Regions from separate parts of the Homo sapiens genome. Here region 1 is linked to region 2. The links come from fine-mapping of genetic effects on gene expression. A gene starts in region 2. The other region holds a variant in brackets. All regions are shown on one strand. Distances are from middle to middle.

Region 1 (2,903 bases), 43 kb after region 2:
TTTTGTAAACATTTTCAACAGCTTGTGGCTCACCTTTTCGTTCCCTTAACAGTGTCTTTTACAAAGCAGAAATTTTAATTTTTTCAAGGTCTCACTCTGTCGCCTAGGCTGGAGTGCAGTGGTGCTACCATAGCTCACTGCAGCCTAGACCTCCTGGGTTCAAGCAATCCTCTCGCCTCGGTCTCCTGAGTACCTGGAACCACAGGCATGTACTACCACAATTAGCCAATTTATCTTTTCCTAATTTTTAGTAGAGATGGGGGGGGGGTGGTCCTCACTATGTTGCCCAGGCTGGTCTCAAACTTGTGACCTCAAGCAATCCTCCTAGATTGGCCTTCCAAAGTGCTAGGATTAAGGGCATGAACCACCACACCCAGCAGACAATTTTAATTGTAATGAAGTCCAATTGATCAAGTTTTTATTTTCATGGATTGTGCTACTGGTATTTTATTATCACCAAACCCAAGGTCACTATACTTTCTCCTGTGATTTCTCCAAGATGTTTTATAATTGTGGCTGAGCATGATAGCTCAGATGTTTTATAATTATGCCTGGGCATGATAGCTCACATCTGTAATCCCAGCAGTTTGGGAGGCCAAAGCAGGGGTTTGAGACCAGCCTGGGCAACACAGTGAGACTTTATCTCTACAAAAAATTTTAAAAAGTAGCTGGGTGTGGTGGTGCACACCGGTAGTCCTAGCTCCTTGGGAGGCTGAGGCAGGAGGATTGCTGGAGGCCAGGAGTTGGAGGCTACAGTGAGCTGTGACTGCGCCACTGCACTCCAGTGTGGGTGACAGAGCAAGACCCTGTCTCAAAAACAAAAAGAGAAGTTTTATAGCTTCTCATTTCACATTTAGGCTTATCTAGAATCCATTTAGAATTAGGTTTTGTGAGAAGTGTCAGGTCTGTGTCTAGATTTGCACGTGGATGTTCTGTTGCTCTAGCGCCAGTGTTGAAAAGGCCATCCCTTCGCCATGGACTTGCCTTTGTTCCTTTGTCAAGGATCGGCTGCCTGCAGTCGTGCGCGCCTGTTTCTGGGCTCGGTATTTCGGTGCATTTTTGACAGGAAGTCTTGAAATTGTGTAGTTTCTGTGTCCAACTTTGTTATTCTTCAGCACTGTGAGTATATTTATATGCATTATGTTTTATATGTATTACAAGTAAGGATATTTATATTTTAAGTGTATTACATTTATATATGTTACATGTATTTTATTGAGTAAAATGTGTGAAGAGGTTTAATTTACTAAGTTTAAAATGGGATAAAAATGTAATGGACTGGTGAGGAAAGCTGGACTCTCCCCCAGGGTCACCCCCATACAGGCAGATCAGTGAACGGTGCCGTGTCCACGCAACGGAAGCTCCCCAGTGAGCCCACCGGCAGGCACAGCAAGGATGCCGCGAAGCTGCCCTCCAGCGGGAGAGGCCAGGCCGGAGGAGCAACTGCGTTCACAGGAAGCCGGGGCCGGCAGCACAGACCCTGCTCTCACCCAGGCAGATGCACTGGCACTGCCCGAGCCGGGGTGAGGCACTCTGAGCGCAGGGGAGATGCCTCCGCACT[G/T]CCCGAGCCGGGGTGAGGCACTCTGAGCGCAGGGAACAGTGAACACTTTCGCACCCCCATGCAGTGGTGGGCACACGGGGCTCTGAGTCTGTTAAAACTCATCAGCCGTACGCGTGAATCAGACACAGATTATAGTAAATTATAGGTCAATAACGTTGACTCAAGAAAAGCAAAACGGGGCCGGGCGCAGTGGCTCACGCCTGTAATCCTAGCAATTTGGGAGGCTGAGGCGGGTGTACTGTCTGTGCTCAGGAGTTCAAAACCAGCCTGGGCAACATGGTGAAACCTGTCTCTACCAAAATATAAAAAAATTAGTGGGGCGTGGCGGTGCACGGCTATAGTCCCAGCTACCACAGAGGATGAGGCACAAGAACTGATTGAACCTGGGAGGTGAAGGTTGCAGTGGGCCATCACGCCACTGCACTCCAGCCTGGGCAACAGAGCACGACCCTGTCTCCAAAAAAAGAAAAAAAAAAGAAAAAGAAAATCATCCCCTAAGGTGGGGAACCTGTTAGATCCATAAAAAGAACAATGACAGCAAGCTGAATAAAGACACACTAGTTTTATAACTTTTTAACTTTAATAACATAAATATTAATTTTTAAAAATAAGGCTGGCCAGGCATGGTGGCTCATGCCTGTAATCCCAGCACTTTGGGAGGCTGAGGCGGGCGGATCACGAAGTCAGGAGATCGAGACCATCCTGGCTAACACGGTGAAACCCCGTCTCTACTAAAAATACAAAAAATTAACCGGGCATGGTGGCGGGCACCTGTAGTCCCAGCTACTCGGGAGGCTGAGGCAGGAGAATGGCGGGAACCCGGGAGGTGGAGCCTGCAGCGAACCAGGATTGTGCCACTGCACTCCAGCCTGGACAACAGAGCGAGAGTCTGTCTGAAAACAAAAAAATAAGGCTGGGAGCTGCAGTGGCTCAGGCTGTTTGTTCTGGCGCTTGGGGAGGCGAGGCTACACGTTCGAGGCCAACCTGGTCAACATTGACCAAAAAAAAAAAAAAAATTCCAACCTGGCTAACACGGTGAAACCCCGTCTCCACTAAAAATACAAAAACTGTCTGGGCATGGTGGTGGGCCCTGTATTCCCAGCTACTCGGGAGGCTGAGGCAGGAGAATGGCGTGAACCCGGGAGACGGAGCTTGCGGTGAGCCGAGATCACACCACTGCACTCCAGCCTGGGGTACAGAGCGAGACTCCATCTCAAAAAAAAATAAAATAAATAAAAAATAAAATTAAGCCTAATTTCTAGAAGGTATTTTCTTTTCTTTTCTTTTTTTTTTTTTGAGACGGAGTCTCGCTTTTTCGGCAGGTGGAGTGCAGTAGTGCGAT
Region 2 (2,903 bases):
TGGAGTACAGTGGCACGATCTTGGCTCACTGCAACCTCTGCCTCCTGGGTTCAAGTGGTTCTCCTGCCTCAGCCTCCTGAGTAGCTGGGATTACAGGCATGCACCACCATGCCTGGCTAAGTTTTTGTAATTTTAGTAGAGATGGGGTTTCATCATCTTGGCCAGGCTGGTCTTGAACTCCTGACCTCAGGTGATCTGCCTGCCTTGGCCTCCCAAAGTGTTGGAATTACAGGTGTGAGCCACCGCGCCCAGCCAGAGTTTCATCTTGTTGCCCGAACTGGAGTGCAATGGTGTGGTCTAGGCTCGCTGCAACCTCTGCTTCCCGTGTTCAAGCGATTCTCCTGCCTCAGCCTCCCAAGTAGCTGGAATTACAGGTGCCCACCACCATGCCTGGCTAATTTTTGTATTTTTAGTAGAGATGGGGTTTCACCACGTTGGCCAGGCTGGTCTTGAACTCCTGACCTCAGGTGATCCACCCTTCTCGGTCTCCCAAAGTGTTGGGGTTACAGGTGTGAGCCACCACGCCCGGCCAGAACCACCTTCTTTAAAGATGATCAGGCCGGGTGTAGTGGCTTATGCCAGTAATTCCAGCGATATGGGAGGCTGAAGCAGGAGGATCACTTGAGCCCAATTCAAGACCAGGCTGGGCAACACAGGGAGACCTCTTCTCTACATAAAATACAACAATTAGCCAGGCGTGCTGGCGCCTGTGGTACCAGCTACTTGGGAGGCTGAGGCGGGAGGATCACTGGAGTCCGGGAGGTGGAGGCTGCAGCGAGCTGGGATCGCGCCACTGCAGTACAGCCTAAGCAGTGGAGTGAGACCCTGTCTCGAAAACAAATACCTAATAAAGGCAGTCAGAGGAGAGGTTTAGCAAATTGCTAAAGAACAAATCTGAGATACCGTTAGTTTCCTTACTTGCAATCTTCATCTGCCAAAATGTCAATTCTGTGAATTGCGGACTAGTCAAAAACTTAAAGAAAACCCACTTTTGTGGAGGTGGGGTCGCTTTGCGTTTCCCAGGCTGGTCTGGAACTCGGCCTGCGCCCCTCAGTGCCAGGGCTCCAGGCGACGCTCGGGTGTCGGCAGCAGAGTGGACGCAGGAGCAGCTCGGACCGCGCTCAGAACACTCGGGACGAGGCCGCGGCTCCGCAGGCCTTGCGGGCTGGGGTCCCACGAAACAAAGGCGGCAGCCAGTGGCCAGGACGGGCAGCGTGGTTCACGGGGCCGTGGCTCCCTCGGGGGTCGCGAGCTCGGCGCAAACGAGCCCCTCTACCAAGGTCGCCTAGAGTCGCGACCCCGACATGCGGAGCCGCCCCAGGGGGGTTTCTCCCGGGTCCCTCCTGTCCCGAGGCGGCCGCTTTCTCCGGGGGCCGCGCCCCGCGCCCCAGCAAGGCCCGACCCGCGCCTGCGATTCCGCCCCCAAGGCGCTGCCGCACCGGGCCCCGGCCTCTTCCTCCGAGGATTCTCAGGAATTGCTGAGACTTGCGTGCCAGTGCGAGGCCCACAACACGCACACGCGCCCGCGCCCGCCAGACCCCGCCCCCGGCACCAAGCCCCGCCTACTGGGGGAGACCACGCCCCCAAGCGAGACCTCCCTCACCGAGCCACGCCCCACCAGGCCCCGCCGCTGCGCCAAGACTGTGCTTAGCCGAGCCCCGCCCGCCGGGCCCCGCCCCGACCCCGAGACTACTCCCGCCAGGCCCCGCCCCCGCGCCGAGCCCCGCCCAGTAGTCCCCGCCCACGCACCTGACCACGCCCACGAGCCGGCTCGAACACGCCCGCGCCGCTGACTGGCGGGTGGGGTTGTCGACACGTTCAACCCGTTCTGCTGGCTCGAGAACGAAGTAGGCCGTCTCGCTCTGGGTCTCCAGGCCCGCGACCGTCCGCCAGTCGTCCCGAGGTCAGTAGCTCCAGCGGTGCGTCAGCGTCTAGCCAGGCCTCGCCCACGCCGGCCTTGGTCGGGCTTCTTGTAGACGCGGGCCTGGCGCTATTGAGGCCGTTGCTGCGCGGGCGAGTGGCGCGCTCCCGTGGCGGGGCGGGGTCGGGCGGGGCAGGGGTCCGGGGCTATCGAGGCGGGGCCGAGGTTGCGCTGGGCAGCTGCGCCGCCGGGCGGACGTGGCGCGCCTTGAGGACGTCATCGCGGTGCACGCTCCCCTTTGGGGCTTGCCGGAAGTCCTTGCCCGGGGCGCGGGGCTGCGCCTGCGTGGTTCGTCCTCACGTGGCCGTCAAGCCCTCTAGTGCCTTAGATTCCAGCGAGCTACGCAAGCAATCCTGGCCCAGCCGAGCTTGCTTCCCCAAATCCCGTAATCCTTGACCTTATTCCCCCAAAGAAGCGGCCTCCCGGGAAGGAGCGCCCTGGCGGAGAAGACTCGAACGGCTCCCACAGCCGGGCGTTGGGGGAAAGGTGGGCGGTCTTGGTCGTGCGAGGTCGGGGAGGGAGGGTCCTCCGCTCTCCATTGCGGAGCTTCGCTCCGGGACCACCGGGGGACCGGACGCCGGGCCGCGAAGCTGCCGCCTGGGGCTGCGGGGAGGAGAGCAACATAACTGGAATGGCACTTAGGGGCCGGTGTCAGGGTTGTCACCGGGGTTGGCGGAAATGACGAAGGGGCCCCAGGCACGTCGTGTTACTGGGCGAGGTTCCAGCCAAGGTGCCCACGCGCCTTGGGGGAAACCAGAGGACTTCTGCACCGTTTCCCGAGGACAGTTTGGCAGTGTTTCAGAAGGGCCTTAGAACCAGGCAGGCCCCCTTCTAGGATGGTGGAAAGCCTAAAGATCTGAAAACGGTCTCAAGTGTCGTCTTAGCGATTGGCTGACTAAACCGAATGCAAGCCGGAGACTGCACACGATGTTGCCGTTAACAGTTACACTGGGCCGGGCAGTCAGAGGCAGGCGGATCACCT

The links. PIP is the estimated chance that this variant, and not a neighbour inherited with it, causes the effect. A credible set is the group of variants that fine-mapping cannot tell apart.
Region 1: its variant is the best candidate, but not a certain one, in a credible set for the expression of RNH1 in whole blood (TOPMed, PIP 0.76).

What each region holds. Positions count from the first base shown.
Region 1 is chr11:463,119-466,021 of GRCh38, reverse strand. The region is part of intron 2 of PTDSS2 (phosphatidylserine synthase 2); the gene reads right to left. Among named protein-coding and RNA genes, the nearest start is that of PTDSS2, 14 kb to the right of the region's middle. The variant G/T (reference allele first, on the strand shown) is at 1,562.
Region 2 is chr11:506,113-509,015 of GRCh38, reverse strand. It overlaps RNH1 (ribonuclease/angiogenin inhibitor 1), which reads left to right and starts at 1,774. Exons shown (of 11, transcript NM_203387.3): 1 at 1,774-1,903. It also overlaps a transcript of LRRC56 not described here. RefSeq lists a cis regulatory region at 2,420 and an enhancer at 2,336-2,505.